Regions from separate parts of the Homo sapiens genome. Here region 2 is linked to region 1. Evidence: fine-mapped expression QTL. Tissue or cell type: visceral fat. Region 1 holds a variant in brackets; the other region holds the start of a gene. All regions are shown on one strand. Distances are from middle to middle.

Region 1 (5,528 bases):
ATAGAGGTTCTGGTTACCAGTGGAGGTCGTCATCTGCCCTCCACAGAGGGCTTGGTTACCAGTGGAGGTCATCACTTGCTCCCCACAGAGGGTCTGGTTACTAGTGGAGGTTGTCATCTGCTCTCCACAGAGGGTCTGGTTACTAGCGGAGGTCGTCATCTGCCCCCCATAGAGGGCCTGGTTACCAGTGGAGGTTGTCATCTGCTCTCCACAGAGGGTCTGGTTACCAGTGGAGGTCGTCATCTGTCTCCCGTAGAAGGCCTGGTTACCACTGGAGGTCGTCATCTGCTCCCCACAGAGGGTCTGGTTATCAATGGAAGTCATCATTTGCCCTCCATAGAGGTCTAGACTGGTTGTCATTTGGCCCCCAGAGAGGGTCTCATCGCTACCGGAAGTCACTGTATGACCATCAGTGAGGGTCTGGTCACTACTGAAGGTCACCTGGTCCCCACAGAGAGTCTGGTTATCACTGAGGGTCTTCATCTGATCTCCAAGCAGGGCTGGTATCTGACTCTCATTGAGGGTCTGGTCACTGCTTGGGGTGTTCAGCTGGCTACTTTCATTGGAGATTGTCATGTTGCTTGCAGTGATGGTTGTCTTCTGGCAATCAGTGGGTGATGACTTTGGGGTGACAGTAACATCTGTCATCTGGGAGCCTGCTGTGTGTTTTACCTGATCAAAGGAAGTCACTTTCTGGCCCATGGAATAAGTCTCACTTAGGTCTTCAAGGGCTTTAAGAGGGTGCATTGTTAAGTCCTGGGTGAGAACTGTCCCAGGGATGTTAGTGCATGCAGAAGTCATCATTGTGGACCCCAAGGGAGGCATCGTCTTGCTCTGGGTTGACTCATGTTGGCTCTCCTCAGCATGGGCAGTCAGAGGCATACAGTTCTGTGGTTCTGGTGCATCTGGGGTTTCTGCCTGTTCTGTATGCCGCTCAGAGAGATGCTGGAAAAATTTCTCAATTTCCTCAATTGCCTGGAGAAGACTGGAATCCATCTCTTTGATGTTGCCTGATGACTGAACTAGATCTTTAGTTATGGGATCCTGCAAAAAAATTGATAGGTCAGGGGTTCATCCCAGCTCAAATTCCAATCCCCACATACCCTCCTTCTCCATCCCTGTTGACCCTATCCTAATCCAGCCCACCATCATCTCTTGCCTAGAAGCCTGTAGTTGCCTTTCAACTGACTCTGGAGTTAACTTCATCCAGTGTCCCCTCCACACACAGAGTAACATTTTAAAAGTGCAAACATTTCTCAAGTGCAAACTTTTACTAAGCTACTCCTATCTACCAATGGAGATGAGAGTCTAGATGGATGTTGTGAATCTCCTATCATCCTCTGAAGAGATCTCACCCCAGAGGCTTTTCCAAAGTCTCCTCTCCAGACATCTTACCGGAGATTCAGCTGATTAAATTTTCAAATAAATTATCTCATTTCATTTCCACCATGACCCCAGAAAATAAGGGTCATAATTAATCCCATTTTAAGGAAAATAGAAGTCCAGGGAGGTAAATTGACTTGGCCCAGGTGGAAGACTCTTAATTTGTACTGGACCTATCTGGCTGTGGGTCCTTACAGTCCCCTAGATAAATGGGATATTTCTCCCAGAGATCTCACTGGGGGCACCCACTGATTCTAGCCTCCTGAGAACCATCCTGGAAACCACCAGCTTCTAGGAACCATTCTACTATGGACTGAATGTTTGTGTTTCTCCAAATTTCATATGCTAAAACTGAATTTCCAGTGTGATTGTATTAGAAGGTAGCGCCTTTGGGAGATGATTAGGTCATGGAGACAGAACCTTCAAGAATGAGATGAGTGTTCTTCTAAGGGGCTGAGGGTCAGAGTTCTTTACTTCTACCAAGTGAGGACACAGCTAAAAGGTGCCATCTATGAATCAGAAAGTATGCCCTTACCAGACACCGAATCTACCAGCTCCTGGACAGAACAGACTAAGATACATTCCAAGAAGCAGTTTCTTTGGAGACAGAGGCGTAACTGTGCATATGGACAAGGTTTATATTTCTGTTCAAAGTGGCCATCCATATGCTTCTAGGCTTCCTTTGTCTCTGGTATCAAGTGTATGTATGTATGTATGTATGTACTTATTTATTTATTTATTTATTATTTTCTCTTTTTTCTCTGCCCCATATGATCTGCAAGAAAAGTGTCAAGTTTATAATGAGCTCCCCAAAGCCACCATCTGGGTAGCCTCACATCTTTTTCATCCCCTGTGCCTCTTCCCTGCTTTTGTCCTACTCTAGCCAGATCAGTCTACTCAGTTTTGCCATGTTCCTATCCAATCCATTGCTCAGTCTGCCTTATCCAGCCAAATTATCTTATCTAATACGTTCTCCTTTCCCATCTCTGCCATCAAAGTCTGGTCCCTCCTGCCTTGTCCTGACTCTCAGAATAGAGAAATACCATAATTCCCCCAGGCTGTATTCAAAATGTGTGACAGGACTG[T/C]CATTGAATATGGTGGACTGAGGAGACCCTGAAGTCCTTCCCTTCTATACCAAATCATAGAAATGATAGATGGCTTTAAATATATAGAAATATATATATATATATAATATATGTACATATATTACATATATTTAAAGAAAAATTTTAAAACCCAAAGAATATACATATATAACATATATCTATTTATGATTGGAAATAAGTGGAATTTCCCAAGAACTAGAAGGAGGTACCCTTAAAAGAAGGGAGATAATTGAAGCCACAGTGGAAGCAGAAGCCACTTTCACTTGGAGGTCTGGGCTGATGCCACTTCTTGTGGTGACACCCTACCAAGAGGAGCTCTCAAAACCTAGGAATTCTTTTTATTTTTATTTTCAGAGATGGATTCTCTCCAAGTTACCCCGGCTGGATTTGAACTACTGGGCTCAAGCGATCTTCCTGTCTCAGACTCCCTAGTACGTGGGACTACAGGTGCTTGCCACCACATCCACCTCTAAATCCATAATAGAAATCCATAATAGAAGTAAAACTGGAAGGCTGCGCATGGTGACTCACACCTGTAATCCCAGCACTTTGGGAGGCCGAGGTGGGTGGATCATGAGGCCAGGAGTTCAAGACCAGCCTGGCCAAGATGGGAAACCCTGTCCCTACTAAAATTACAAAAATTAGCTGGGCTTGGTGGTGAGCACCTGTAATCCCAGCTACTCGGGAGGCTGAGGCAGGAGAATCGCTTGAACCTGGGAGGTGGACTCCAGCCTGGGCGACCGAGTGAGATGCCATCTCAAAAAAAAAAAAAAGAAGTAAAACTGGAAAGTTCACAAATTTGTGGAAATGAAAGAATATACTCTTAAGCAAACAATGGATCAAAGAAGAAATCACAAGAGAAGTTATAATGAACACAAAAACACAATAGACCAAAATTTATGGGATGTAGTAAAAGCAATGCTAGAATAGAAGCTATAAACACTTACATTTAAAAAAACAAGAAATAGCTCAAATCAGTAACCTAACTTTACAATTTACGGAACTAGAAAAAGAACTAAACTTAAAGTTTGCAGAAGGAAGAAAATGATAAAGATTAGAACAGGCCAGGCACAGTGGGTCAGGCCTGTCATCCCAGCATGTTGGAAGGCCAAGGTGGGAGGATCCCTTCACCCAGGAGTTCTAGACTAACCTGGGCAATATAGTGAGATCCAGCTCCTACAAATTTTTTTTTTTTTTAATTAGCTGAGTGTGGTGGCACATACCTGTAGTCCCAGCTACTTGGAATGATGAGGCAGGAGGATCACGTGAGCCCAGGAGTCGGAGGCTACAGTGAGCTGTTATTGTGCCACTGCACTCCAGCCTGGGTGACAAAGCAAGACCCCACCTGTAAAAAAACAAAACAAAAAAGAATAGAGCAGAGATAAATGAAATGGAAATTTTAAAAAATACAGAAAAATTAATGAAACAAAAAATCGATCTTTGAAAAGATCAGCAAAATTGACAAACCTTTAAGCTAGATGGACTAAGAAAAAGAGACTCAAATTACTAAAATCAGAAAGAAAAGTGGGGACATTACTACTACTTCTACACCAATAGAAAGGATTTTAAGACAGGACTATGGACAGTTTGTACACCAACAAATTGGATAACCTAGATAAAATGAAGAAATTCATAGAAACACAAAACCTATCAAGACTGAATCAGGAAGAAAGAAAATCTGAAGAGACCTATAACTAATGAGACTGAATCAGTAATCATTATCTCCTAACGAAAAAAAAGCTGTGGACCTGATAGTTTCACTGGTCAATTCTACCAAATTTTAAAGAACTAATATCAATCCTTCAAACTTCTACAAAATATTGAAGAGGAGAGAATACTTCCTAACTTACTCTACGAGCCCAGCATATACCCAATGTCAAAGCCAGATGTGATGCTACAAGAAAAGAAAACTACGGACTCATATCCCTTAAGAACATTGATGCAAAAATCCCAAAAAAGTACTGGTAAACCCAATTCATCAGCATATTACAAGGATTATACAACAAGACCAAATGGGATTTACTCCCAGAATGCAAGGATGGTTCAACATATGAAAATCTATTTTCAATATATTTATTGAAGAAAATATAGTTATAAGTGGACCTATGCAGTTCAAACCTGTGTTGTTCAAGGGTCAAATGTATATACAAACAATGGAATATATAACTGAATATCCAGCCTTAAAATGGAAGGATAGTCTGACACATGCTACAACATGGATGAACTTTGAGGACATTATGCTAAGTGAAATAATCCAGCCACAAAAAAGTGACTCACATAAAAAGTCATGTGATTCCACTTATATGAAGTACCTAAGAGTAATCAAAATCAGAGACAGACAGATGGTTGGGGGGAAAAGGGGGAGGGGGAATGAGGAGTTAACTGTTTAACTGGTACAGTTTCACTTTTATAAGATGAAAGAGTTCTGGAGATGGATGGTGGTGATGGTTGCATAATACTATGACTGTATCTAAATACCACCACTGATCTGTAAACTTAAAAATGACTAAGATGGTAATTTTATATTACATATATTTGAAGATCATACAAATAACTGAGAAAAATTCAAAAAAAAAATTCCAAACAGGAAATCTTTGAAATGATGTCCTCTGAGATTAAAATCAATCTCTAGCTATCACAGCACCTCTAGCTCTAGGTACTCAGAGGCTGTGGGACGAGGTTCCCTTGAGCCCAGCAGTTTGAAGCCAGCTTGGGCAACATAGCAAGAACCCCCTCCTCTCTAAAAAATAAATACATAAAATTAAACTTTAAAAATCAATCTCTAATAGCATCTTACTCTTACACTTAGTTTCCCACCATTTCTACTCATGTAAAAGCTTAACTCCTGTCTACCCCCTCTCCCCACCACTGGACTAGAAGCTCCTCTGAGCAGACAGAACTCTATTTCGTTCTGAGCAAGGCCTGATGGATCCCACTGGGAACCTTAGAAAACAGGAACCCAGTGAGGGACTGATTCCCACTCCACCTGCTCTAGGTCTGCTTCTGGTCCCTAAAGTTTCTGGCCCTTGGAAAAACAGA
Region 2 (5,000 bases), 160 kb before region 1:
TCTCTATCCTCCCAGGCTACTCCATGTTTGGGGCTGGCCTCACCGTAGGCCTGTCTAACCTCTTCTGTGGAGTCTGCGTGGGCATCGTGGGCAGTGGGGCTGCCCTGGCCGATGCTCAGAACCCCAGCCTCTTTGTAAAGATTCTCATCGTGGAGATCTTTGGCAGCGCCATTGGCCTCTTTGGGGTCATCGTCGCAATTCTTCAGGTGATGAATCCCCTTGGGAAGCCTCTGTGTCCTTGTCCCCAACCTAGCCTTACCCTCCTTCTGGAGAAGCTGAAGTGCTCTCCTTCTCTACCTATAACTATAGATTCCCCCAAACAGCTTCCACCTCCTCATTTCCATCTTCTGGTTTTCTCCTACAGGGGCTCTCTATTTTTGTCTCTGATTTGGTGTCACTGACAACAGCCCTGTTCTTTTTCCCCCCTTTCTAATGCGTTGTATCTGTATAGCACTTAGTCCTCCCTCTTTCTGTTCTCTCATTTTATCTGCCATGCTTTTCATGTCTCCAGTCTGTATTTGTGATCTAGACTAGAATGGAATTTTGTCTGTCTATATCAGTCTGTCATGGTGTGTTTGACTGTCTCTCGGAGCTATGTGTATCTCCCTCTCACATGCCTGTCAGTAGGACACCATTGTCTAAATTGTGTGTGTCTAGTCTGTCTGACAGTGTGTGAGTTTGTGACTAAGGATCAGCCTGAGGGTCTGAGTGTGACTGTGGGTGCTTGACTGAGTTGATTCTTAGTGACTAGCTTTATCCATATGCCACTTCTCTCCGTCTGTCCCACAGCGTAACTCTGTGGTTGTCTGTCCCTGTCTGCCTTGTCTGTCACAGTGTGTCCATCCTGGTTAGTCATATATCTCTTGTGGTCTGTCCATCCAACCATGTGCTAGATGTCATCTTCTATCATTTGTCACTGCCTTACCTATTCCTCTGTCCCTGCCTGATTTCTCCTGTTCTTTTTTTGCAGACCTCCAGAGTGAAGATGGGTGACTAGATGATATGTGTGGGTGGGGCCGTGCCTCACTTTTATTTATTGCTGGTTTTCCTGGGACAGCTGGAGCTGTGTCCCTTAGCCTTTCAGAGGCTTGGTGTTCAGGGCCCTCCCTGCACTCCCCTCTTGCTGCGTGTTGATTTGGAGGCACTGCAGTCCAGGCCGAGTCCTCAGTGCGGGGAGCAGGCTGCTGCTGCTGACTCTGTGCAGCTGCGCACCTGTGTCCCCCACCTCCACCCTCAACCCATCTTCCTAGTGTTTGTGAAATAAACTTGGTATTTGTCTGGGTCAGTGCAGCTTCTGTTGCCCTCTTGCGTCACCGTTCACAGAGGAAGGGTAAAGAGGCCTGTACGCCTCAGCCTCATGCCAATCCCTTGTCAGCTTTCTGACTGCACACTTCTGATCTGCACAGAGCTTGCTCCTAGGTGGGGAGGCACGGGTGCTGGGTGGACTCTAACCCCCAAACAGACTTGTTTGGGGATGAGGGAGTGTGCAGATAGGGGCCCCTGGGTGTGTTTGTGCCTGTAGTCCTTCTAGGCCCGTTTGCTCAGGGCTCTGACTGACCACCATGCCCGAATTGTCTGACAGCATCTACTTACCTGGTTGTACAGTCGGGCACCATCATCTCCGTCCTTGTGAGGCCTGGAGCCTAGGCAGTGGTCTCTGCCTCCAGTGATGGTCCTGTCCTTCTAGCAGCAGCCCCTCCCAGAAACCTCTACTCTGATCCTTGTTCCCAGGGCCCAGGGCAGCTCCTCCCACCCCATCCAATCTCGTTTTCTCCTTCCCTGACCCTGTTTCCTGTTACCCCAGAAGCCCCAGCCACCTCCAGCCCACGCCTTTAAGGGTCCTGCCCCCTCTCTGCTGGCCGACCTTGAATCTTGGTCCAATTAAAGAGTTGACAAATCCCTAGCCCCGCAGCCTGAGTCCGCCCAACCTCCAGGTCCCCTTCCTGGGGAGTTCGCGCTCCAATGCAATCCCCACTCCCCGCTAAGGGACTCCACGGTCTGCACCCGCTCGCCGGTCCGACCTCTAAGCCCACCCTTTGGACGAGCCTGACCCATTTCCTCCCGCGCTCCCAGGTCCGTGCCTCCTGGGTGCCCGGGTTCGGCCGCCGGCAGGGCGGGCTCGCAGCGGCGCGCGGCGGGTGCGGGCGTGCTGGAGGCGGGGGCCGCGGGGGCGCGCGCGCGGGCGCGCGGGCCGGGCCTGCCCCTCCGAGGCGCCGTAGCGCGGGAGGGAGGCGGCGGCGCTGTGGTCCGTGGGTCCGCCGGTCCGTGGGTCTGCCCGGCCGCCCGGCCCCGCCCTGCCCCCCGGGGCGGCTCGGCTCCATGGCCCGCGGCGGCGGCGGCGGCGGCGGCGGCGGGAGGCGACCCGGGGGCCGCGGTGGCCGCTGACCGGGCGGCGGGAGGCGGCGGGGCCGGGCCATGGGGGACGGAACCGTCCGCAGCCGCCGGAGCCGGGAGCCCTGCCCAAGTCGGAGCGGCGTCCCCTGCTGAGCCCCGAGCGCCGGGTGAGAGGAGGGCGCGCGCGGCCCCCACCCAGGGCCCCGAGATTCCAGACCCAGCCCCGCGAGGGGCACCCCGAGCGCGGCCCCGAGATCCCAACCCAGGAGCCGGTGAGAGAGGCGCCGGCGGCCAGACCCCGGCCTGGCTGCCCCCACCCCGCCCCCACTCCGGCGCCCCTCCTGGGCTTCTCCGCCCGCGTCCAGCCGGCCTCCCTCATTGTCCTCGCTCGCCCCGGCCTCGTGGCGCGGGGAGGCGTTCCATACACGTTTCCCCTTGGCCTTTGCCTCATCCGCTGCCCTCCACCCACTCCCCCTGCCCCCAGGCTCCACACCCACCCGGTCTGTGCGGCCTGCCCGTCCGCGGGTGCCACGTGTTCAGCCTGCCAGCCCCGCCCAAACGCACCCCTCAGCCTGGCCGCCAGCCTGACCCAGAACCCCTGCGCCGGAGGGAGGGTGGGAATGTCTGCACGTGGGTCTGGGTGTGAGCTGTCTGAGAGTCTGGATGTATGGCTGTGGAAGTCCAGGAGCAGTGGCCTTGTTTGTGAGTGTGGGACTTAGTGTGTTACTGTCACCCGGGTGTGTCTGTGACTGTAGTTCTCTGTGTGTCTGAGTGTGGGTGACCAGCTGGGACCAGGGTGTCCCTGTGATTCTGTGTGCCTGTGAGACTCACCCTGCTCCCTGAAGCACTGCCAGAAGTGGCTGCCGCTCTCTTGGAACCACAGCTGGAGCCATCGCCCAGGCAAGACCCCCTTCCTGCCATGCCCAGTGCTGTGCCCATCTCCAGGCCCAAGCATCCCGTTCCGGGAATCAGAACCAGCTGTGCTGGGCAGGACCCAGAGTCTTGGTCCCAGTCCCAAGGGGCTGGCTTTGAGGTCTTAAGTGAGGGGTGTCCCCTGCCTTGCCCCGTATTTTGACGTTTTGCTCCAGTGGGAAGGGATTCTGTAAACATCCAGTCTGTATTTGGGCCCCCCGGATGCTGAGGGCAACTTCCCAGCCTGGTCCCAGTTGGCCTGGCCTGCTTGTCGCTGGGATCTGAATGACCAAACCACTTCCCACCATGGCTCCTGGAAGGACTAAATGAAGTCATGAGTATAAAGTGCTCCTGCATGGTAGGTGCACAGTATTCCGTCTCTTCCCTCTTCCCCAAGCCATGAGTTCTGGGTTAAGGATGCTGCCATGTGAGGTGTCTGTTCTCAGGGGCACAGGGGCACATGGGGGTCTATAGGTAAACATGTCTCCATGCTTAGGTACAAACCAGTGTGGTTAGAGTTCACGTGTCTGTGTTCCTGGGAATGCGTGAGTGTGTGTGTAGAGTTGTGCAATAAGGGTGAGTGCCTGAGTGTGTGTGTCAGTGAGGTGGAGGAAGGTAAATGTATGTGGCTTAGTAGTGGGGTGTGCTTGAGGATGTGAGTACTGAGTTGCCGGGAACTGTGCCTGGGTGTCTGTTTGGAGGTAAATTCTTGAGTCTGTGAGTGTGAAAGGGTATGAGCAGGTCAGTGTGAGGTGTGGCCCACGAGTGTGAGCAGCTGAGTGGGAGGTAGGTGGGCAGCCTTGCCTGTCCTGCCCTGACCTGCTGGATCTGTTTCCCTCCCACCCTGCTCAGGCCAGCAGCCGGATGCCCGGGCCCACTGGGCGGGCCAGTGGCCGCCTGCGGGATGAGCAGACTGCTGGGGGGGACGCTGGAGCGCGTCTGCAAGGCTGTGCTCCTTCTCTGCCTGCTGCACTTCCTCGTGGCCGTCATCCTCTACTTTGACGTCTACGCCCAGCACCTGGCCTTCTTCAGCCGCTTCAGTGCCCGAGGCCCTGCCCATGCCCTCCACCCAGCTGCTAGCAGCAGCAGCAGCAGCAGCAACTGCTCCCGGCCCAACGCCACCGCCTCTAGCTCCGGGCTCCCTGAGGTCCCCAGTGCCCTGCCCGGTCCCACGGCTCCCACGCTGCCACCCTGTCCTGACTCGCCACCTGGTCTTGGTGAGCCTGGAGGGTAGGGCCTGCCTGTGGGGAAACAGGGTTTTATTGGTTTGACTAGAGAAATGGCATCTGGACCCAGGGGTGTGCCAGGGGTCCAGGTCTGTTGTAAGAGGGCTATTCTTGGGGTTCCCTAGCCCACCCCCAGGCTGAGGGTGGGGGCTGGTATCTGTGGATTCTGGCCAATGCCCTGATTCCTGACACTGTCCTGTCTGCAGTGGGCAGACTGCTGATCGAGTTCACCTCACCCATGCCCCTGGAGCGGGTGCAGAGGGAGAACCCAGGCGTGCTCATGGGCGGCCGATACACACCGCCCGACTGCACCCCAGCCCAGACGGTGGCGGTCATCATCCCCTTTAGACACCGGGAACACCACCTGCGCTACTGGCTCCACTATCTACACCCCATCTTGAGGCGGCAGCGGCTGCGCTACGGCGTCTATGTCATCAACCAGGTGCCCATGCGGGGGTCCATGTGCCTGTTGGTGTATATATGTGGGTTGGGGGCGTTTGTGGGTCCTTGTCTGCCCGTGTGGATATG

Direction of the effects. Positions count from the first base shown, and alleles are read on the strand shown. Sizes are in standard deviations (SD) of each study's normalised expression.
With allele C in place of T in region 1, the expression in visceral fat of the gene that starts at base 2,200 in region 2 is lower (moderate effect, 0.52 SD a copy in GTEx).

What was found. PIP is the estimated chance that this variant, and not a neighbour inherited with it, causes the effect. A credible set is the group of variants that fine-mapping cannot tell apart.
Region 2: B4GALT2 starts here. The variant in region 1 is the best candidate, but not a certain one, in a credible set for the expression of B4GALT2 in visceral fat (GTEx, PIP 0.79).

The regions. Positions count from the first base shown.
Region 1 is chr1:44,140,636-44,146,163 of GRCh38, forward strand. It overlaps KLF18 (KLF transcription factor 18), which reads right to left and starts at 996. Exons shown (of 2, transcript NM_001358438.1): 1 at 1-996. The coding sequence starts at 996. The variant T/C (reference allele first, on the strand shown) is at 2,469.
Region 2 is chr1:43,977,011-43,982,010 of GRCh38, forward strand. It overlaps B4GALT2 (beta-1,4-galactosyltransferase 2), which reads left to right and starts at 2,200. Exons shown (of 7, transcript NM_003780.5): 1 at 2,200-2,501; 2 at 4,099-4,463; 3 at 4,679-4,914. The coding sequence starts at 4,151. It overlaps ATP6V0B (ATPase H+ transporting V0 subunit b), which reads left to right. Exons shown (of 8, transcript NM_004047.5): 7 at 16-206; 8 at 971-1,285. The coding sequence ends at 997. RefSeq lists enhancers at 902-1,493, 1,494-2,084, 2,085-2,676 and silencers at 2,094-2,193, 2,464-2,573.